Regions from separate parts of the Homo sapiens genome. Here all the other regions are linked to region 1. The links come from fine-mapping of genetic effects on gene expression. A gene starts in region 1. Each other region holds a variant in brackets. All regions are shown on one strand. Distances are from middle to middle.

Region 1 (7,362 bases):
CAGTCTGGGCAGCTGAGCAAGGTTTATCTTATCTCTAAAAACAAACAAAAAAACAAAAACAAAAAAGCTTTGGGAGCTCAAGAGAGAGTAAAGAAGCCATTTCTTTCTTTCTTTTTTTTTTTTTTTTTGAGATGGAGTCTTGCTCTGTCACCCAGGCTGGAGTGCATGGTGTGATCTCGGCTCGATGCAACCACCACCCCTGCCTCCCAGGTTCAAGCAATTCTCCCACCTCAGCCTCTCGAGTACCTGGGATTACAGGTGCGGGCTACCATGCCCAGCTAATTTTTGTATATTTAGTAGAGATGGTGTTTCGCCATGTTGGACAGGCTGGTCTCCAACTCCTGGCCTCAAGTGATCCACCCGCCTTGGCCTCCTAAAGTGCTGGGATTACAGGTGTGGGCCACTGCACCTGGCCCTGAGATTCTTCTTTTCAACCAACTCCATGTGATGCCAGGCTGCTGGCCTGGCATCAGTGATACAGCAGTATAGGATACTTAGTATAATCCCATTTCTGTAAAAACAAAATGGAACAAAATGAATATGTGCATATATGAAAAACAAAGCCAGAGAACGATCCCTAAGCTATAGTGGTTATCTCTAGGTGGGAGGATGACCAGAGGTTTTCAAATACTTGTGTAAAGTCTGGTTTTACAATAAGTTTCAATATTGTAATTAGGGGGGAAAAAGTAAAAATAATAAAAGCTGGCTGGGCATGGTGGCTCACAGCTATAATCCCAGCATTTTGGGAGGCTGAGGCGGACAGATCATGAGGTCAGGAGTTTGAGACCAGCCTGGCCAAGATGATGAAACCCCGTCTCTACTAAAAATACAAAAATTAGCTGGGCACAGTGGCGAGCACCTGTAATCCCAGCTACTCAGGAGGCTGAGGCAGGAGAATTCCTTGAACCAGGGAGGGAGAGGTTGCAGTGAGCTGAGATCACACCACTGCACTCTAACCTGAGCGACAGAGCAAGACTCTGTCTCAAAAAAAAAAAAAGAAAGAAATACAAAAAATTAGCTGGGCGTGGTGGTGCATGCCTGTAGTCCCAGCTACTTTGGAGGCTGAGGCAGGAGAATCACCTGAACTTGGGAGGCGGAGGTTGCAGTGAGCTGAGATCACGACACTGCACTCCAGCCTGGGAGACAGAGCGAGACTACGTCTCAAATAAATAAATAAATAGGCTGGGCACAGTGGCTCATTCCCGTAATCCCAACACTTTGGGAGGCTGAGGCAGGAGGATCACAAGGTCAAGAGATCGAGACCATCCCGGCCGACATGGTGAAACCCTATCTCTACTAAAAATACAAAAATTGGCCGGGCGCAGTGGTTCACACCTGTAATCCCAGCACTTTGGGAGGCAGAGGCAGGCAGATCACAAGGTCAGGAGATGGAAACCATCCTGGCTAACACGGTGAAACCCTATCTCTACTAAAAATACAAAACATTAGCCGGGCGTGGTGGCACGAGCCTGTAGTCCCAGCTACTTGGGAGGCTGAGGCAGGAGAATTGCTTGAACCCAGGAGGTGGAGGTTGCAGTGAGCCAAGATCGCACCACTGCACTCTAGCCTGGGTAACAGAGCGAGATTCCGTCTCAAAAAACAAACAAACAAACAAAAAATACAAAAATTAGCTAGGAGTGGTGGCACGTGCCTGTAGTCCCAGCTACTCGGGAGGCTGAGGCAGGAGAATCGCTTGAACCCAGGAGGCAGAGGTTGCAGTGAGCTGAGATCATGCCACTGCACTCCAGCCTGGCGACAGAGTGAGACTCCGTCTCAAAAATAAATAAAATAAATAAGTAAATAAATAATATTAAAAGCCCAGCCATGATGCCCTCTAGGCAAACATCTATAAACTGCACCCCCTCCTGGTGCCAGTCATCCAGGCTTCCATCTCTGCCTTCTCTTGTCCTCAGAGCATAATAACAGGTTGGCATGGAACAGCTGCCAGGTTCCATGCAAGTTGTGTGGCACTGATGCTCCAGCTGTCTGGTGAGCTGTTATCATTGGCATCCTCACAGCTGCAGCTTAATAAGGGCCCCCTGAGCACTAGGCCTGGGCTGTGCCCTACACAGGCATTTGATCTATTATTATCCCCATTATCCAGATTAGTTAACTGAGGTTCAGAGACGTGGAGGGACCTGGGTCACGCAGCTTGTTTAAGGCCCAGATTAGACTCCTAATCCACTCTCTGGTGCTACCAGGGAGAGGGCCTGCTTGTTCCCCATGCCTGCCTCGAAGATTCCTCCCCACAAGGGTCACTCTCTGATCACCATCTTCACAATAGCAACACCACCCTACCCCGCCCCTGCTTTCTTGCTCTGCAGGGCACGCCATCTAACAGGGCCATCGTTATTGCCCTATTTGCATATTGTCTGTCTTTTTCCACTGAATTGTCAGCCACATGTGGGTAAGGACTTTGTCCGTTTTGCTCACTGCTTTATCTCTGGAGTCTAGCATAGTACCTGGCTCAACAAATACGCATTAAATGGATGAGTAAGTGAACAGTCTCCAATTCACAGACCACTTTGTCAGCAGTGCCCCCACACTGTTCACAGCGCAGGGAAATGACTCACCGACTCCCCATGAGCACAGTGTAGGCTAGCCTTCCCTTCCTAGCCTCCACCGTGAATACTAATTAGGTTTCTTAAATGCAGAGATGGACGGCTGGGCTCAGGGCCCCATGGTCTGTCTGTGTGAAAGGGTACGCAGGGTAGGATTGTAGGAGCCCTGGATTTGAATCCCACTGTTTTACGCTGTTTTACCACCATCCTGATGGGTTGGAGCAAAGACTTCCACTCTCTAGGACAAGAGCTTCCAACTCTCCCAAGAAGGGCCCTCCAGGTGTCAGGGCCTCTGCACTTGCTGGTCATTCAGCCTGGCATGCTCTTCCCCTGATCTGCTTGCTGCTGGCTCCTTCTCATCATTTTGGTCTCTTCTCAAATGTCACTTCTGCAGAGAACACCCCCGACTCCTGCCAAGCCAATGTGAACTTTCCACACCCACAAAGATACCTTTTTTCACCCTGTTTATTTCCTCCATCCCTCTTACTATGAATTATTTTCATTTTTACTATTTCATTTATCTGCTTACTTATTTACTGTCTGTCTCCCCAGCTTGATGCAAGATCTATGAGGGCAGAGGCCTTGGCTGTCTTATTCGTTGCTGAATCTTCAGTGCCTAGGACAGGGCCTGGCTTCTAGCAGGTACCTAGTAAATATTTGTTGAATTCATGTTCCAACTTTCTCCTTCTAGAAACAAGGAAACTGAGGACCAAAGGCAGAAGAGGACATGTTGGAGATCAGAGTCAGGATCTAGGGATAGAAGCCAGCGAGATGAAGGGGAACTCATCTCGGAGTTCTGACCTCTGAGGTCAGGAGGCTGTGACCTCAGAGGAAGCCCATCTGCTCTCCAGGCCTGTTTCCTCATCGGTAAGATGGAGTGAAACATCCAGACCACTCTCCAAGAGGCCTGGTACTAGGAGTGAGACCCAACCCATTGACAAATATATTCTGCGCAGCATCCGCGCACCCCAGACACTGCTAAAGCACCCCAAAAGCCGCAGAAGGTGAAAACTACGACACCCATGATGCCCCGGACGGCGCCTGCGCACGGCGGCCGGCCCGCAGCGCCGCGGGCTCCCCCTAGCGGCGTCCGGGAGCGGTGCTCGCTCCGATCCCCGAGGGGCGGGGGCCCCGCGGCGCAGGCAGTCTGGGCGCGCGGCTGCAGCGGCGGAGCCGGAGTCGGAGCCGGGAGCGCTAGCGGCAGCCGGATCGCAGCCTGCGGGGCCCGCCGCAGCCATGGGCAACCGCGGCATGGAAGATCTCATCCCGCTGGTCAACCGGCTGCAAGACGCCTTCTCTGCCATCGGCCAGAACGCGGACCTCGACCTGCCGCAGATCGCTGTGGTGGGCGGCCAGAGCGCCGGCAAGAGCTCGGTGCTCGAGAATTTCGTAGGCAGGTAGGCGCGGCGCGCCCCCAGGCGCCGACCCCCGACCCCCGGGATCCCTGGAGTCCCCGCCCGGGGCACTGACGGCGCGGCGACCTCGCAGCCCCCGACGCTGCACCCGCGGCCGGCGCGCCCCCCACCCCCAGCCGGAGCGAGGAGGCCCTCCCCCCACCACGAGAGCCCCTCGGGGCAGCAGCGCCCCCCGCTAGTCTGCAAACGTCGTCAAGCCTCCGGCTACCGAATCACGCCCCCTCCTCCGTCCCATCCTTTAGGGCAGACAACGCTCTGCCAGAAGCCCCGGGCAAAGAGCTGCCCCCCGCCCCCAACATGGGCATGGAGAGAGCCCGCATTACTCAGCGTCTCCGTTGGGCTCCGGGAGTCCCTTGGAGCGGGCAGCACCCGGGGGCAGCGTCCCCCACACCGGGCTCAATGGGGGACATCCCCCTACCCCCATGGGAATTCCTGGGCCGTGGCAGAGGTCAGCCCCCGCATCCCAGTCCCTAGAAGAGGACGTAGTCCCGCGGGCATCGAGGACCGGGCACGGCCTCCCGCCAGCACACACACACCTCTGCGGCTCCCGCCGCCATCCGTGCGCAGCGCGGCGAGGGGGGAGGCGCGGGCTGCAGGATGAGGAAGGGAAGAGGGGAGGAGAAACCACTTCTTATCCTTTTCTGAGCAGCCGGCCCCTTGCTTCGCCACGGCCCCTGGGTGGGGGGCGCCTGTCAGTGTCGCCCTCCCCTTGGCCTGGCCAGAGGAATCGTGTTGGAGGGAGAGGCGGCAGAGGGCAGAGATGACTAAGACAGGGATGGCGGGAGGGGGGAGCCATTTGCAGAACCTAATCCCCCTCCCGCCTCTGATCCCACAAGGCGCTGAGAGGCCTAGGTGGCGGAGAGAGGAACAACCGCAAAGACAAAGGGTCGTGGGTTTAGCGGGGCAGGCAGGGTCGTGACCCGCAGGCTCCCCACAAACCCCCAAAGGGAGGCAGAAATAGTTTTTCTGGTGCTGAGGAGAGAGAAGAAAGATAGGAGCTCTCCAGGTACTGGAGGTGGGTTGGGGGGCTGGGCAGACTGGGGGATGAAGTGAGAGAGTTTACACTGACCCCGTCTTTCATCTCCCCCCCATCTTCTTCAGAAACTCTTGCTTTCTTCCAATGACCTTCAGGGCCAAAAAAGTGACTGGCACATGGGAGAGGGAGGCAGGGGCCCTTGTCCGCAGAGGTACAGCAGTTCTGTCCAAGCCAGGTTCTGCTGCAAAACCTCAGGCAAGTCACTTGCCCTCTCTGAGCCTCAGTGTCCCCATCTCTAACATGGACAGTGGGACTGGGTGGTTGTTCCTGCCCCTCAAATGTCCTGGGAAACCCATGCCAGCCCTAGAGGTGAGAGGGAGAGGGCCTGACTGGAGCCATGTGTGTGTGGGACGTTGGAAGGCCACCGTGGGGGCGGCCGTGCCCATCTGGTCAGCAGAGGGGAAGGCATCTGTCTCTCCAATGGCTCCTGCAGAGCCCCCCTTCTGATCACATGACCCCCGGAGCTGCAGAGACACAGGCAAGAGACACACCACGGGCCCCTTCCCCAAGGGCCAGCAGTCAGGGATATCCAGCAGTTTAGAATGGAGAAACCATATTCCTACCTCTCGTCCTTTGAATGTTGGCTGAACTCCTGCCCCATGCCAGGCTGCGTGCTTCAGGCTTGGGGTAGGGAGGGGACCAACTGGTGATTTCAGCCCGCATCTACTGAGCCCATCCCATGCATCCCCCTATGCTGAGTCCTTCATAGGCTCACAGGAGCTCCCAAGAGGCAGGTACCATGATGCCCATCCTACAGATGAGGAAACTGAGACCCTGGAGGTTAGATGCCTTGCCCAAGGTCACACATTCAGAAAGGGCAGCAGCTGTTAGACTCCAAAGCCCAATTCCTAATCTCGACGCTGCACATCCTCTGACAGCCGGGTCCTGCACCAGGCACAGGGACGTGTGGGTGGGTGGGCCTCCATTTCCCCATCTGCGGAATGGAAACGCTGACAGCCGCTGCCCTGCCTTCCTGAGAAGGTGACTGTGGGCTCCACCGAGTTCATGGGTGGAAAGGTGCTTTTGTAAACATGCGGGAGGGGGCGCTGATAGCCAATTAGGCTTGGGGACCTGCATGCCCAGCCCCTGCCTTCCTGGAGCCCATGACGCAGGGGCCATCCCTGACCACAGCAGATTTCATCGAGTACTTGCTTGTTGAGTGGTGGAGCAAGGTTTGGACCGTGCCCCAGGAGGCCTGGGCCCTCTGGCTGCCCTCTCCACCCCAATGCCCTTGGCCGTTGTCCCCACAGGAGGATGTGCAGGGTGTCCAGATGCAGGCCCAGGGCAGGGGAGGGGGCTTAGGTTGATGTGAAGGAGTAGGCAGAAAAGCATTCATGATCCTCTGAAAGCTAGTGAGAAGGCCAGGGAAACTGAGGCTCAGTGGGTTCCACTGTCTCAGCCTGCCAGCTCCCTCAAGGGCTCCTGACCTCTCCAACAGGGCTCAGTCCCCAGACTGGTGAGCATAGTAACAGCCATTCTGTCTCCTGGGGCTTCCCAGGAGCCAATCCCCAACAGAAAATGCTTCACAGGAAAATGCATCAGGGCTGCCCCAGGCCCACCCGGGCTTCTGGGTGCTCAGGAGGATCCTGCTGTCAACTCTGCAATGGAGGTAGCCTTGCAGCTGCCTGGGATGCTGCTAGAACTTGTCTGGGTCTATACTATTTCTTCACCCCCTTCCCTTTTACAGAAGGGAAAACTGAGGCCAATTCATTCAGTCATTTAGCAAACATTTGTGGAGGGTGCACGATGTCTCAGCACTGGGGATTCTATGGTGGAAAAGACCAAGACTCTGCACTGCAGAGGGAGAAACTCAGAAGACAACTGGAAAATGTGGTGAACGTCAGGGAGGGGAGTGGGGCTGCTCTCCCCAGGGAGGTCAGAGGTCTCCAGGAGGAGGTGGCATCTGAGATGAGAACCAAGGGATGAGAAGCTGTGTAACTTGCCAGGGGCGGGAGAGTTCCAGGCCAAGGGAAAGGTGCAAAGGCCCCGGGGTAGCAAAGAATTTGGTGCCTTTGAAGAACAGAAAGGAGACCCTGTAGCTGGTATTCAGCTAGCAAGGGGGAGACAGGACCTGAGAGATAGGCAGGGGCTAGATCTACAAAGCCCTTAGGCCATGAGGAGTGAGGAGTTTGGGTTTATTTTCTCTCTTGTGGGAAGCTTTTTAGTAGTGGAGTGATGAGCTAATTCTAGCAAGGGTGTGACTTGGGGAGCGGGTGAGGGAAAAGGCAGGAGACTGGTGGGGAGGCTGCTGCAGTGGGCAGGGGGTAGTGGGGGGCCTGGACAAGGGCTTCAGCTGCAACCAGAAGGAGAATGGTGGGTGGGTTTCAGGATATATTTTAGAGGAAGTCCT
Region 2 (5,000 bases), 20 kb after region 1:
CAGTTTTGTCACTCCCCCTCTGAGACACTCTCTCTGGCTCTCTGAGCCTCTATTTCTTTTTTCTTTATTTGTTTTCTTTCTTTCTTTCTTTCTTTCTTTCTTTCTTTCTTTCTTTCTTTCTTTTCTTTTCTTTCTTTCTTTCCTTTCTTCTTTCTTTCTTTCTCTTTCTTTCTTTCTTTCCCTTCCTTCCTTCCTTCCTTCCTTTCTTTCTCTTTCTTTCTTTCTCTCTTTCTTTCTCTCTTTCTCTCTTTCTTTCTCTCTTTCTCTCTTTCTCTCTTTCTTTCTTTCTCTCTTAGATGGAGTTTTGCTCTTGTCACCCAGGCTGGAGTGCAATGGTGCGATCTCAGCTCACTGCAACCTCTGCCTCCTGGATTCAAGGGATTCTCCTACCTCAGCCTCCCAGGTAGCTGGGATTACAGGCACACACCACCACGCCTGGCTAATTTTTGTATTTTTAGTAGAGACGGGGTTTCACCATGTTAGCCAGGCTGGTCTCGTACTCCTGACATCAGGTGATCTGCCCGCCTTGGCCTCCCAAAGTGCTGGGATAACAGGCATGAGCCATAATCGTGCCTGGCCTCTGAGCCTCTATTTCTGCATCTGTAAAATGGAGACAATGGTGATCAGACCTGTTTCATAGGATTGTTGTAAAGGTTCAGGGAGATACTGTGTGGGGGCACCTAGTGAGCATGAGTGCTAGAACTTGAGAATGACCTTAAAGGAGGCTTTAAACCCAGAGGGTCCAAGGGGCAGCCCTCTGGCCACCCCTGCCTCAGACGCACGTCTAAAAATATTAAATTGGGATGGTATGGTGGTTCATGCCTGTAATCCCACCACTTTGGGAGGCTGAGGCGGGTGGATCACTTGAGGCCAAAAGTTCGACACCAGCCTGGCCAACAAGGCGAAAACCTGTACTAAAAATACAAAAAATTAGCTGGGCATGGTGGTGCACGCCTGTAGTCCCAGTTACTTGGGAGGCTGAGGCAGGAGAATTGCTTGAAACTGGGAGGCAGAGATCGCAGGTTGCAGTGAGCTGAGATCACGCCATTGCACTCCAGCCTGGGTGACGAGTGAAACTCCGTCTCAAAAAAATAATAATAATAAATAAAAATAAAAAGATTAAATTGGCCAAAAATCAGGAAATTCCAAATACAAATCCAGATTTCTGGCTTTATTGAAAATTATGCACTCATTAATTCAACTAATACATCTCTGCAAGCTCCTTCTATGAACCAGTTTTCTTGCTAGTGGCCCGGGCAGCAGTGGCAGGGCTGCCCTCCATAGCTCTCCACCTCACCACGTTCACACAGTCCCCTGGCATCCAAGTCCCTTCCTGGCCCTGTGACCATCTGTCCTCAACCCTTTCCTCACCCTTACCCCCAGCAACTGACGAACCACATCCGGGACACACTGCCGGGGCTGCGGAACAAGCTGCAGAGCCAGCTACTGTCCATTGAGAAGGAGGTGGAGGAATACAAGAACTTCCGCCCTGATGACCCAGCTCGCAAGACCAAGGCCCTGCTGCAGTGAGGCTCCCCCAGCTCCTATCACTGAATCCCCGCCCCCAGCCTCTCAGCGTGGGGCTCTCCCAGGGTTCCCTTTGCTGGGCTGCTCCTGCCCCCTCAGGCCACACCACTCTCCCACCAGGATGGTCCAGCAGTTCGCCGTAGACTTTGAGAAGCGCATTGAGGGCTCAGGAGATCAGATCGACACCTACGAACTGTCAGGGGGAGCCCGCATTAACCGAATCTTCCACGAGCGCTTCCCTTTCGAGCTGGTCAAGGTAGGTCAGGCAGCCCTGGGGACAGGATGGCTCAGGACTCCCCCCACCCTCACTCAGGACTCTCTCTGCGTGTGTTTTTGCTGGCCCCCACCCCACAGGCCCTGATGCCCAGCCCTAGGTGTGGGGTGGGCCCTGTCTTGACCTCCCAGGTAGTAGGACAGGCCCTGACCAGGCTTTTCTCTGCTTTTCTACACAGATGGAGTTTGATGAGAAGGAACTCCGAAGGGAGATCAGCTATGCTATCAAGAATATCCATGGCATTAGGCACGTATTGGGGCCTGGGAGGGTGGCTGAACCCCAGAAGTAGGGGGTCTGGGACAGAGGCACAGGGAGTGATGAAGTGGGCCTCCCTCAGGAAGGACTGAAAGCTCTGTTCCCCAGTCCTCTCGACCCCAACTTTCTGGCTCCCTGCATGACAGGCTCCAGCTTGGGGAGGTGGACCCGGGCCACCCCGCCTACTGCAACTTGCTGGGCCAACTGGGCACAGCCCAGGGCGCAGGTGGCCGGGGAAACACCCTCTGGGGCTGGGCCCATCCCCAGGGTGAGATAGCTCCCCCAGTGCCACCCAGGTAACCGGACAAAGATGTCCAAACCACTACGAGGGCCTGGGGTGGAGCATCTAAGTATGAGGCTGTGTCCTTTTATGACGGCCGGGGACTTTGCAATCCTCCACACCCTCCTGTATTCACAGTAGCCCAGAGTCAGTCCCATTCCACCCCACCGCCCTCCTTCTAGGCAACCCGTGGAGTAGGAAACAGGATTGGGAGGTGGAATCTGTTCCTTAAAAGCTTAGATCCCCTTCAGGGACCCAGATCTATGCTGTGTTCATCCAACAAATCCACTGGGCCGGAAAATTTAAAGCACCTACCCTATGCCAAGCAGTGAACAAGACCCAGTGTCCCCTTGCTCTCATGCAGGTTCATTTCCAAGATTTGGCATGGAATTTACTTCCTGATAACTGCACTGGCCAATTCACAGAAAAAAGATCTCTTTCCTAGTCTTAAAACAAAACACTCTATTCCTGGAAAGGCTCTTATGGAGAACCACGTTTGGCAATTTTCAAGCCATTTCTGGCCATAGAACTTCCTATATGCACAGACCCTTACGAGGAAGCAGGACTTACATATCAGATACTCAACCACCTTGTCTTGCCCCAAAGAGCCTCATTAGGGCCGGGCGCGGTGGCTCAC[G/A]CCTGTAATCCCAGCACTTTGGAAGGCCGAGGCAGGCGGATCATGAGGTCAGGAGATCGAGACCATCCTGGCTAACACGGTGAAACCCTGTCTCTACTAAAAATACGAAAAAATTAGCCGGGCGTGGTGGCAGGCGCCTGTAGTCCCAGCTACTTGGGAGGCTGAGGCAGGAGAATGGCGTGAACCCGGGAGGCGGAGGTTGCAGTGAGCCAAGATTGCGCCACTGCACTCCAGCCTGGGCGACAGAGCAAGACTCCGTCTCAAAAAAAATAACAACAACAACAAAAAACCCTTCATTAGAACCCCTCCCTCCCATTTTACAACTGGGGACACTGAGGCCCAGAGAGGGGTAGTGGAAGGGCCCCTCAGGCAGAGTTCGTGGGCTTGGGGAGGAGCCTCGGCCTGGCCCTCCTGGCCGGCACTGGCCTGTGACACTCTGCCCTTCTCCCGCTCCGGGCGTTCAGAACGGGGCTGTTTACCCCAGACATGGCCTTTGAGACCATTGTGAAAAAGCAGGTGAAGAAGATCCGAGAACCGTGTCTCAAGTGTGTGGACATGGTTATCTCGGAGCTAATCAGCACCGTTAGACAGTGCACCAAGAAGGTAACCCGGAGGCCCGGGCCAGCCCCCACCGCCTCTGCCCCGCCCTGCACTGCTGCCAGGCGCTCCTTCCCCATGTCCCCCCCTGCCTCCTCGGTAGCATGTACAGACCTCAGCGGGGTGGGGAGGCAGGCCACCACTGAATAGGAGACAATGTGCCTCTGAGAGGGCCTCACCCACCCCTGGCCCCCAGGTCTGGGGACCCAGGGATTGGACATGGGTGAGACGGGGATGATGGCTGGCTGTTTACCCCAAGAGCCCACCAAGAGCTCCCCCAGCTCAGAGAATAGGGCTTGAGGGGACCCTGAGCCCCCTCCCTGTCCTCGGAGGTGTCATCTTTGGGAGCTCCAGGGAGGGGTCTGGGGAAACCTTAGCCTTGGAGACAGGTGAAATGCAGGGCCTTCTCGGGCACTGCTCGGTGGGCCTGGGTGGCCAGAGGGGGTGCAGAGGACCCAGGACTAGCAGGTGCCCTGGCTCCCCGCTGTCCTTCATCCTCCCCATACTCATCTCACCCTCACTCAGGACCCTCACACAGGATGCTCACGTAAGACCCTCACTCAGGGCCTCTCCCTCCCTTCCATCCACATCTGGCTTTCCAGGGATAGAGCCCTTCTCCCATCTGCCCCACCATCCAAGCCTCACAGAAGCACGCAGGGAGGCAGGACAGGGAGGACGGTGCCCATTTCACAGCACGAACACTGAAGCTCCAGGAGATCAAGTGGCTTGCCCAAGTCACAGTAGTCAGGAGGTGGCAGAGCTGTTACTTGAAGCCACGGCTCTGGACTCCAAGTCCAGTGCTCCTCGATTCCACCCTCCAGCCTCCCTTCCTTTCCTCTCCCCACTGCTGTCCCGGCCCCTCTCTATCACTACCTCTACTCTTTCTGTCTTTCCTCTTCTCTTTCTGTCTTTTGGTTCCACCAAACCCCTGTGGAGGAGAGGCCAGGAATGCCCCTTGAAGAGAAAGGGAGGGGCGGGACTAGAGCAGGGAGCTGGAGAGGGAGGTCAGGCTGCTATACTGCAACCCTAGGAGGCAGCCTCTGCGCCACGGTTTACGGGAATGGACCCCCCTGGAGTTGTGCAGTGCATGGCCTGGGCAGCTGGATGCGGCAACCCTAGAGATAGGGAATGGTACTGAGGTTTGGAGTCAGGATGAAGCAAATTCTGGGACACTGGGAAACGTAGAATTGAACAGGATGGGTGGATGAGGTCCTGGCCTTGTCCTGGCCTGGGTCAGCTCCTTAGGAGAACCCAAGGCTGTGGACAAAGACGGCACTGGGAGAGAGCAGGCAGCCTCAGTGAGGCCGAGGAGCAGGGGAGCATCCCTGGGAAGAGGATCTGAACTCAATAGGGGTCTTGTACGGAGCAGGGGCTTGGTCCCTCGTACCTCTGGCCATACCTATGGAGCCCAGGGGATGCTTGGCAGCACC
Region 3 (5,000 bases), 25 kb before region 1:
GAGGGCTGAAGTTTCTGATTAAACAGGCTCCCATGACAATGAAAGGGGGAGACACAGGGAAACCCTAACCTCCAACCACAAAAGAACCTGATCCTCAGCCTTGTCACCCCACAGCGGGGTTAGCACACATGCCACAGGGGGCAAGAGTCTGTGCCACAACCTGTCCTCTCCCACAGGGATGGTCATACTGTTCCTGCCTAGAGGGAACCTTAAGAGAATGTCATGAATTCCTGTACTATATCCGTCACCAAGCCATGTTACAGGCAGGGAAAACTGAGGTTCAAGGTCACACAGTTAACAGTGTGAGGAGGCCTGGCTGGGGGTGCAGTGCTTAACCCAAAGGTAAACCCTGCAGATGGTAGATTCAGGCCCTGGCCGATGAGACTGCCTACCCCCCAACACAGAGCTTCCACGATCCCCCACTCACTCATCCTCTGTCTCCAGGACGTCCCGGGGCACGGGCAGCAGGGACAGGAGGCAGGCTTGGCTCATGTGCTGGATCTCCCCTAGCCGCTGCTGGTGCTGAGGCTCCGACATGTGGTCCTGGAACTCCTGCAGCAGGAGGGAAAGAGGGATGGGCCTGGGGCGTGAGCCCAGAACAGTGGGCAAGGCTGGGGCCTGGGGAGGCAGACCCCAGCCTCATCACTGTGCGCCCATTTCTCTCACCACACATTTCTCTCTTGTGTAGGCTAGAGCAGGCATGATAAACTAAGACACAGGGTACATGCCAGCCCGAGCTTCTGCCCCTCCCAGAGAATGTGTGAGTGCCTCAAAGACAAGGAGCGGCCTGATTAGCATCCAGGTCTCCAAGGCTGTGCCAGGTGAGGCACAGAGTAACACAGCTCACAGCACAAGAGTAGTAATACAAGTACAATGCGATCATGATTACTGCTACACTCACTTTGGGCCAGGCCTGCGCTCAGGACTCCAATGTCACATTGCTGAATCCCCAGAACCACCCAGTGAGGTGGATTCTAAACGTTTCTTTTTTTTGTTTCGTTTTGAGAGTCTCGCTCTGTTACCCAGGCTGGAGCACAGTGGCATGATCTTGGCTCACTGCAACCTCTGCCTCCTGGGTTCAAGCAATTCTTCTGCCTCAGCCTCCTGAGTAGCTGGGATTACAGAAGCATGCCAACACATATTTTTAGTAGAGACGGGGTTTCACCATGTTGTTCAGGCTGGTCTCAAACTCCTGACCTTGTGATCCACCCACCTCAGCCTCCCAAAGTGCTGGGATTACAGGCGTGAGCCACTGTGCCCGACCCTAAACTTTCCTTTGTCTGATGCAAGAGGAAACAGGCACAGGGTGGAATTCGCTTTCCAAGGTCTCCCAGCTACTCAGAGCCGATATGAACCAGGTCTGACTGACTCTAAAAACCTGCTTGAGCCCAAGAGGTAGAGGCTGCAGTGAGCTGAGATCATGCCACTGCACTCCAACCTGGGAGGCAGAGTAAGACCCTGTCTCAAAACAAAAAACAAAACCACCAAAACCTGCCTTCTTGGCAGGTCAGGAAATGTTTCCCAAGCAAATGCATGGCTGCTTGGGGCAGGGCCCATTGCAGCCTGAGGCATTCTTGGGAGGGCAGGCTGGGCATTCCACGCAGGCCCCACCCCTCCCCACCCTTATCTCCTGTATCAGTACCTGCTGGCTGGAGCAGCTGGCCTTGCAGATGTAGCAGAAGAACTGGAGGGCCTGCTTAGAGGGAGTGCTGGTAGCCGCAGGGGTGGAGGAGACGGAGTCACTGGGGCGGGGGACAGGTGTCAGGGGTACAGTGCTAAAGGCCCGGCTGTCACTGCTCTGCAGAATGGTGACCTTCAGGGAGCCCCCGGCGCCCCATACCTGCATGGGGAGTAGGAACTGAACTTCCATCAACTGTGTACTTATAGTGGGCCAGCCCAGCATTCAACATCTGCCAAC[G/A]TTGTCTCATCAGATCTTCCTGATGATAGGGAAACTGAGGCTCTGAGCTGTTAGCTGACTACCCCAGCTTGCACAGCTAGAAAGCACTGCAGTCAGGATGCGAACCCAGGTCGGCCTAAAGTACCACTCATCCCACCCCTTGTATGACAGATGGGGAAACAGACTCAGGAGGGAAAGGGTTTGCCCACAGTTACGCAGAGCTGGGACCCAAATCCCACAGAGAGGCTTCCACTCTGTGCTCTCTCCACGAGAGCAACATTACCCATGCGAGGAGACTGGGGCTCTGGCTTGGGGATGGGCAGGCTGGAAGGGACGGATGTGAAGACAGCACAACAGCAAGAGGGTCCCATGCACACCACTATCAAGCCCAGCCTGGTCTGGCCACCCATCCTAGGCAGAGGGCTGTCATCCCATTTCACGGTGGGGGAAACACAAGGAGGCCCTGAGGTGGCCTGGGGCAGAAAGAGGCCATCCCACCCTGCTGGGCTCTGTGGCCCTCACACTGCCACATCAGGGCCTCTACCCACCCCTGGCATCTCTCTCGCTCTGTTTTCACATTCTCCCACATCTAGGCCACAGGCCGACTCATTCTGAATCTCTTCCATGCTGACTTGGGTGCCCACAGGCTCTGGCAAGGTCTTTTCCATGCCTGAAATGACAGATGTGCTGTATTTCCCAGAGTCCCCAGGCCCAAGAGCTGCCTTCTCCGTCCGCAGCCAGAACCTTGAGGCCCCCAGCATGGATGGCCCTGGACCTGGGTTCCAGGCCTAGCCCTCAGTCCCAGGCAGCACCCAGTCAGGGGAGGAATGAAGGGTCTGGGCAGAGCTGTCCCATCACCAGACCAGCTGGGAGCCAGTGCTCACTTACCTCCACCAGCTTCTACTGCATCAGGTGGCATCTCCAGCCCGCAGACATGAACCACAACTGGTGTTTGCTCTGGAGCCAGCAACGACACCTGCGGCTGGGTGTGAGGCTGCTCATGGGTCTGCTCTGGTGGCTGTACTGACACCTGCGCTGGAGGATGCTCCTGTGGCTGGACGCTTGGCTGTGCCTGTGTGTGGACCTGTGGATATGTCTGTGTCTGGACCTGCTTCTGCAGCTGCAGCTGCACCTGCCTTGGGGGCTGTGAATGTGCCTGGGGCTGCACCTGTGGCTGCACCTGCTTCAGCGGCTCTGCCTCCTGCTGCAGCTGCACCTGCCTTGGGCCCTGTGAATGTGCCTGTGGCTGTACCTGTGGCTGCACCTGCTTCTGTGGCTCTGCCTCCTGCTGCAGCTGTGGCTGCACCTGCTTCTGTTGCAGCACTAAGTGCTCTGGAGAGGTCTGTGTTTGCGCCTGCTTCTGCAGCTTTGGCTGCACCTGGGTGTCTGTGGATGGTATCCGCGGCTGAGTCTGTGACTGCACCTGGGCCTGGACCTGCAGGACCCGTGGCTGGAATCGTGGCAGCACTTGGGCTTCCAGGGCCTCAGGCAGCAGGTCTGGTGTCTGTGTCTGTTTCGGTACTGTCATCCGGGCCTGCGGCTGGGCCTTCACCTGTAACTGCCCTGGAGGTTCCTTCTCTGTGGGCTCTTCTGAGCTAGGAAGGATCAAAAAAAAATCCCAGTCATGTCTTCAAAGAGGCCCCAGGGGCTCCCAAGTAAGGCCAAAACTAGGCCGAGCGTGGTGGCTCGCATCTGTAAACCCAGCACTTTGGGAGGCTGAGGCAGGTGGATCATTTGAGGTCAGGAGTTCCAGATCAGCCTAACCAACATGGTGAAACCTGGGATTACAGGTGTGAGCCACCGCGCCCAGCCCAAGACTGTTTCTTTTTGTTTGTTTTTGGTTTTTTGTTGTTGTTTGTTTGTTTTTTTGAGATGGAGTTTCGCTCTTGTTGCCCAGGCTGGAGTGCAATGGCGCGATCTCGGCTCACCACAACCTCCGTCTCCCAGGTCCAAGCGATTCTCCTGCCTCAGCCTCCGGAGTAGCTGGGATTACAGACATGCGCCACCACACCCAGCTAATTTTGTACTTTTAGTAGAGACGGGGTTTCTCCATGTTGGTCAGGTTGGTCTCAAACTCCCAACCTCAGGTGATCCGCCCGCCTCAGCCTCCCAAAGTGCTGGGATTACAGGTGTGAGCCACCACATACAGCCCAAGACTTGGTTTCTAATGCTGGCTCTACCACTTACAGGCTGGGGATTTGGGCAAACTCCTTTGGCTGTCTAGGCCTCAGATTCACCTAAATAAACCGGGGAGGATCGTTCTCACCTCCCACAACTTGCTGACATGTATCCAATTGGCTTTGTAAATGGCCTGCCCACTACGGTCCCAGATGAACGTCTTCACCCCTCCCACGCAGCCATCCAGCTTGGCCCCCAGGTGGCTCAGTCTCAAGGAAGACACCAGAGTCTGGCTGGGAGCTTCCCCAGGTCAGGTGCGGAAATAAGTAAGGCCTTCCTCCAAATCAGAGGCCAAGGCCCTTTCCTTGCTCCAGCTCCACTGAATGGTGCACCCCCTCTGCCATTGCCACCCCTGCCTTTGCAGGAATGAGAGCACAGGGCACCCGGGCGCAGGTCAGGTTTTCAGCATCAGTTACCTCCTCAATCTCTTTGCTGGCAGCTCGGACGCCTCACAAGGCTCAGGCTCAGGTGCTGGAGTGCGTTTTTCCTTGGCGATGTCCTCTGGGCAGGGCGGTAAATCTTGGTCTGGAATGGAGGCATGAGCGAGGGAACTCATGTTGGGAAGAGCAAGCATCTCTGACCTCCAAGAGATGGGGCCTGGGCTCCCCGCCTTCCCACCAAGAACCCCTGCCTCCCACACCTGCCTCTATCACCTGCTGACCCGCCCACTGGCCCCACCCCATTCATGTCCCTCTGAAGGGCCAGCAGCCTCCCTCCCTCACCTTCTGGTGTGTCCATCCGGGGCTCTGCGGCTTCCTCAGACCCCTCTGGGGGGTCTGACTTGTCTTCCACAGGCATTGTCTGAGAAGAAGAATCCTGCTTCCTTTCAGAAACTATGTTGACATCCAATACCCACCCCTATCAATACCCCCTTGCCCAAGGGCAGCTGCCCCCCATCCTCCAGGGGATGACAGGGCCCTGAGGA
Region 4 (5,000 bases), 50 kb after region 1:
CTGCTCATCTCGCCTCTCCTTGTTCCTCGCTCCCTGTCGCCCTCAGGTCGCCCACGTCCAGCCCCACGCCGCAGCGCCGAGCCCCCGCCGTGCCCCCAGCCCGGCCCGGGTCGCGGGGCCCTGCTCCTGGGCCTCCGCCTGCTGGGTCCGCCCTGGGGGGGGCGCCCCCCGTGCCCTCCAGGCCGGGGGCTTCCCCTGACCCTTTCGGCCCTCCCCCTCAGGTGCCCTCGCGCCCCAACCGCGCCCCGCCCGGGGTCCCCAGGTGAGTAGGGGCTGAATGCGGCTGGAGAGGCTGCCGGACGGGCGTGGCCGGGAGGGAAATGGGGCTGGATTCCAGAGCATCGGACCTGGCCGCCAGAACCGGCCGTTTCTATCCCAGGCAATCGGACTCTGGGTGCCGGAGCCACGCCACGTGTGGCCGAGGGCTGGCGGAGCCTGCCCCCGAGGGAGCGCTGAGTCCCGGAGGTGGTCGTTTCTGGGGAGGGGGCTGTGGGGCTCGTCCCACCTGCCCCCTTCTTTCCAGCACTTGCATGGCGCTTCCCTCTATTTTCACTCTTGGCGGCCGCCCACACGTTGCATTCCTCCTCCTTTCTTCTTCTTGCTGTCCTCCATCCTCCATTCCGTCCAATTCCTCTCCCAGCCCCTGGGGAGCCTACCTTAGGTCTGACTCTGAACCCCGATCTGCTCTGAGTGTGTGGATTTCCTTCAGCTACCCTGATGTCCCCACTTCCCAGCCCTGACTCCTTTGAGCCATCCCAGGGGGTGTCCAGCCACTGGCCCACAGGAGCAGAGGCCAGGCTGTGACTGTGTGACTAGAAAGGTGTGTGATGTGTGTGTGGGCGTGCACACGAGTGTGAGAGTGTAAGCATGGCACCCAGGCCCGGGCTAGGACAGGAGCAGCTGGGGAAGCAGCCTGGGCCGTGGGCAAACTGATGGCTTTTTTCCTCCCCCCAACCACCCCCTCCGCGACTTCTGGCCCTACCCAGTCTAAACCAATGTGGTAGGGGTGGCGGCAGGGGCAGGGATGGGAGTGCTTGAAGCCTGCTTCATTCCCAAAGATTTCTAGGGAAAAGCTTTCTACTACATCCTTTGGCTTGACCTTCTTGACCCATGACTCTCTTTCAAGGAAGTTCACTCCAATTCCCAGTCTGCCCTGTTTCCACTGGCCACATTCTCTAAGGAAGAACACAGCAGAACAATAGCATCTGTTTTGTTTCTGCATGGCTGGAGGGTAGGGCTGTCGGTCTAGCACCCATAAACCAAAATGAGGCAGGGATTGGGGCTTGCCCTATGATGCTCTGATGACCAAAGCAGATGCGTAGAGGCAAGCAGCATGGTATTGGGCAAGAGGACTGGACTGGGAGTCCAGAGATGCTGCTTCACCCTGGGCCTTTAGACACGTCTCTTTCCCTCCCAGAGCCTCAGCATCCCTTCTATCAAATGATGACATTCTGCCTTTTTCCCAGGGCGGTTGTGGGGATCGAGGGAGACAGTGGCTATAGGGATGCTGTGTTAACTGCAGATGCAGCCGTAGGAGCACTTTGCTAACTGCCAACGTGAGTTCAGATTCTTCAGGGTATTTGGCACCCAGGTCTATGGTGCGGTGTGAGATCTGTGATGTAAGGTTTGATGCCTGCCCCAACTCCAGTCTTGCTAACACACATGAAACATTTGGCAAATCATGACCCTACCTTGGGGAAAAGAGCAGTCTGGGAGAGCTTCTTCAAGGCAACCTGACTTCAGTGCAGTCTGAGGCATGGCTGAGATAGGCTTACGTGGCAAGGAATCAGGAGGGTATCTGGGCCAAGAGCTGCAGTGTGGGCAGAGGTGTAGTGTGGGCTGCAACGAGGACAGCCACTGGACAAAGCAGAGAACAGAGACAGAATGAGGAAGAGCTCTGTGGGCAGGGTGGGGCGCAAGGTGGAGAACCTTCAAAGTCTGAAAAGTTTGACTTGTTGGGGCTCAATGCTGTGGGCAGTAGGGAACCACAGAAGGCTCTTAGGTGGAGAAATGACAGCTGGACTTTAGCGAGCAAGCCCTATCTCCATGAGCAGCACGGGTGATCCTCTAAGCACACCAGGCACGAGTGTGCAGGGAGCTGGTGCAAATGCCTCTGTGTGCGGGTGAGCTTCTGTGTTGTGACTCTGCCCACACGTGTGCTTCAGTGTGCTGAGTGGCTGCATGCCCCAGATCCATGCTGCACGCGCCGCCGGCCAGTGAGGGTGCTGGGCACTGGGAGGTGGCGGGGAAGGAGGCGTATGCGTGTTGTTTGTGGGCATGTGTGTTAGCGTGTGCATGTGGGCCATGGGGCCTCACAGCAT[G/A]TGTGTGCACGCCCGGGCGTGTGCGTGTGTGTGTCCCCCACCCCCAGGCCGGCCCCACCCGTGCGTGTGAACTGCCATGTTGATTTCGTGCTGTCTTTCAGAATCACTATCAGTGACCCCTGAGGAGCGTCAGCCATGGTAGGTACATGCCTCACCGCCTGCTGCATGAACGGTGTGTCTGCCCCGCTGCACTAGCTCCACACGGGGCGCGCACCTGGGACCTCAGAGCCAGGCTCCCCGCCCCTCCCTTCTGCAGCTGCAGACTTGCTCTTTCCTCTTTCTGTCCTTGTGCCGCTGGCTCTCTCACCTCCCTTCCCTGCGAGCCTCGGGACTCAGTGCCACTGCCCAAGGCCTCCATGGCTGAGCCTGGAGGCTCTTGGAACAGGCTCCGCGCCCAAGCTGGCAGACATGGGTGCTCTCTGGAGCCGTCAGAGAGGGCAGAGAGCTCGTGGTTTATGGTGTAAAGGCTGGGAGCTTGGAGGGGGTCGTGTGTGGGGCTGGACTCTGAGGCGGCCAGAGGCCTAGGAACGTTATCCTGGGCACACCGTGCGTGGTGTGCAGTCTGAGTCATGCTCCCTGGGTAGGGCATCCAGCTCCCAGCCTGGGAGTGCTGAGAGCCAAATCCACCGTAGAGCAGGGGTGAGAGTCAGGGTCCCACCTCCTCTATCTGCCGGCAATCCAGTGGTGACCTAGGGTAAAAGCTTGAGAGTCCCATACACACGGTCATCCCACGACATACCTCACAGGCCAGGCAGGGACACACAGCCCCCTTCCCTCCCTCCCAGGTACCGTCATAGCTGCTAGTGTGACTGAAGGCAGTGTCCCTGGCCCCAGCTGAAGCACCGTAGCCAGCCAGCGGGCTCACGCACCTTGGCCTGTTGCTCCTAGGGTCACTTGTGCCATTCAGCCAAGGGGACGACCGTGCCTGCTGGCCCAGCTGAGCTCCGCCCAGTGAGCCCACCCCCCATTCTCCTGCCACTGACTCTCGCTCTTCTGCTTTTCCCAGCAGGAAGGGCCCAGCCTCACCTACGAGACCTGCAGCCCCCCGACCAGCTGAGGCTCCCCTCTTAGACTTATAAGTCTATGGCCACTGGCATCCGGCTGCCTGCCCTCCCTGCCTCCCCCAGGGTCCCTTCAGAGGGTCCTGGGTTTTCTGAACACCCAGAGGGGCCTCCGGCGCTCCCTCCAGCCATCCCTTTTAGTTTCACCCTCCTGGTTCAAGCAGTGTTCTTTCTCTATCAGGCCTGGTGGCTGTTGCATGGGGCTCCCCAAGGCAAGGGGTGGCCCCAGGCCAGTGGGTTGGAAGACAGGGTGACCAGAGAAGAGGGAAGCCCGAGGGGGCCGAGCATCAGCCTGAATTGCGGGTGCCCTGCCTGGGTGCCGTGTGAGAGGCCAGCGTGTGTGGGGTGGGGAGGGCCGCCACAGCCCCCAGGCGCTATCTGTGAAGCTACGGCTCCTCCCTCCATCTTCCTCCCCTTTCCCTTCCAGCCCCTTTTCCAGGAACCTTGCCACACCCACACCTGCAGCCTCCCCTCCCCGGCCCTCCCACCACTGCTGCGGCGCGGCCGGCCCCGGCCGTGTGCTGCGCTTGCCTTACCAGCTCTCTCCTCGCTTTTCTCTCCCGTTTTCTCTCTGCTTTCTCTCCAACTGCCAGCCGATCGGGTCAGGCAAGTCCATCCCGTCCTGAGAGCCCCAGGCCCCCCTTCGACCTCTAAACAGATCCCTCCTCTTCTCGGAGACCTCCCTTTCCAAGCCTGCCTGGACGGCTGTTCTGTGACTTGACAGTGGCTCCCCCAGCCCCAAAGCCAGCCCCCTTCATCTGTGACTTAATCTGTTGTAGTGGTGAGCTGATACATTCAGGTGTGACCGTTGGTGAAAACTTGTGCCCCTTCTGTGGTATGCCCTTGCCCTGTTCTATAAATATCTATAAATACTCATATATATACACACCTACACATGGCCAACCGCCTCGCCTCTAGCGCTGGGAATCAGTCACTGTGCTATCCTTGTGGAGTCTTGTGGCCCAACTACCAGAGAACGCTGTCCCCCGACATCCCACTCCAAAGTGTGCCACCTCCAGTGAGCCTCCTTGTCATGCCCGGCCTGTGGACAGCCAGCCCCCGCCATCCCTCCCACCCCCTACCAAGCATGGGGGTGCTGTGCAGGCAGCCGTGTGGCCTGACAGTTTCTACCAGTCCTGCTGTCCCTCGGCTGAGAATAAAACCCATTTCTGGATGATGGGGAATGTCTCCTCTGCTGGTTGTGTTCTCTCTGGAGCTCAGGGGAGGGGAAGGGCTAAGCCATTACTAGGGTGCTGCTGGGGGTGGTGAAAAGACCACATCTTTTCCAAGGGACATTTTTCCTGGAAAGCCCCTGGAGCTTAGGGGGCTCTCATCCTGTGAAGCGGGCTCTGGCCACTAGGGGGCAGGGCCATTAACTCAGCCTGGAGGGCGCCGGCAGGGCGGCTGGCATTCTGGAGGGACAGACAGAACAGGCCACCAGGCTCAGGCAGGCGAGGGAGGCAGGGGGACAGAATGGAAGACACCTGGGCTGGATGGAAGTCAGTGCCCTTGGGTGCTGGCATCCTGTCTTCCTGGCCACCGCTAGATCAGGCTTCTGAGCCTGTTGGCCATCGGGGCCAAACTGTCCCCATAGGTACCATGGTAGTCCCCGTGTAAT

The links.
Region 2: its variant is fine-mapped to the expression of DNM1 in whole blood (TOPMed, PIP above 0.99). The same link has a PIP of 0.9 or more in cerebellum.
Region 3: its variant is fine-mapped to the expression of DNM1 in whole blood (TOPMed, PIP above 0.99).
Region 4: its variant is fine-mapped to the expression of DNM1 in unexposed skin (GTEx, PIP above 0.99). The same link has a PIP of 0.9 or more in sun-exposed skin.

Annotation. Positions count from the first base shown.
Region 1 is chr9:128,199,674-128,207,035 of GRCh38, forward strand. It overlaps DNM1 (dynamin 1), which reads left to right and starts at 3,706. Exons shown (of 22, transcript NM_004408.4): 1 at 3,706-3,958. The coding sequence starts at 3,798. It also overlaps a transcript of CIZ1 not described here. RefSeq lists enhancers at 3,389-3,488, 4,920-5,492 and silencers at 3,549-3,768, 4,337-4,631.
Region 2 is chr9:128,220,814-128,225,813 of GRCh38, forward strand. DNM1 (dynamin 1) reads left to right here. Exons shown (of 22, transcript NM_004408.4): 7 at 1,384-1,526; 8 at 1,648-1,783; 9 at 1,980-2,047; 10 at 3,438-3,576. Among named protein-coding and RNA genes, the nearest start is that of DNM1, 20 kb to the left of the region's middle. The variant G/A (reference allele first, on the strand shown) is at 2,974.
Region 3 is chr9:128,175,924-128,180,923 of GRCh38, forward strand. It overlaps CIZ1 (CDKN1A interacting zinc finger protein 1), which reads right to left. Exons shown (of 17, transcript NM_001131016.2): 6 at 4,798-4,891; 7 at 4,492-4,600; 8 at 2,786-3,492; 9 at 2,446-2,567; 10 at 1,643-1,840; 11 at 428-552. Among named protein-coding and RNA genes, the nearest start is that of CIZ1, 13 kb to the right of the region's middle. RefSeq lists an enhancer at 2,311-3,002. The variant G/A (reference allele first, on the strand shown) is at 1,919.
Region 4 is chr9:128,250,679-128,255,678 of GRCh38, forward strand. It overlaps DNM1 (dynamin 1), which reads left to right. Exons shown (of 22, transcript NM_004408.4): 21 at 47-262; 22 at 3,976-4,566. The coding sequence ends at 4,036. Among named protein-coding and RNA genes, the nearest start is that of MIR3154, 8.1 kb to the left of the region's middle. RefSeq lists silencers at 1-118, 129-218 and enhancers at 4,373-4,877, 4,878-5,000. The variant G/A (reference allele first, on the strand shown) is at 2,322.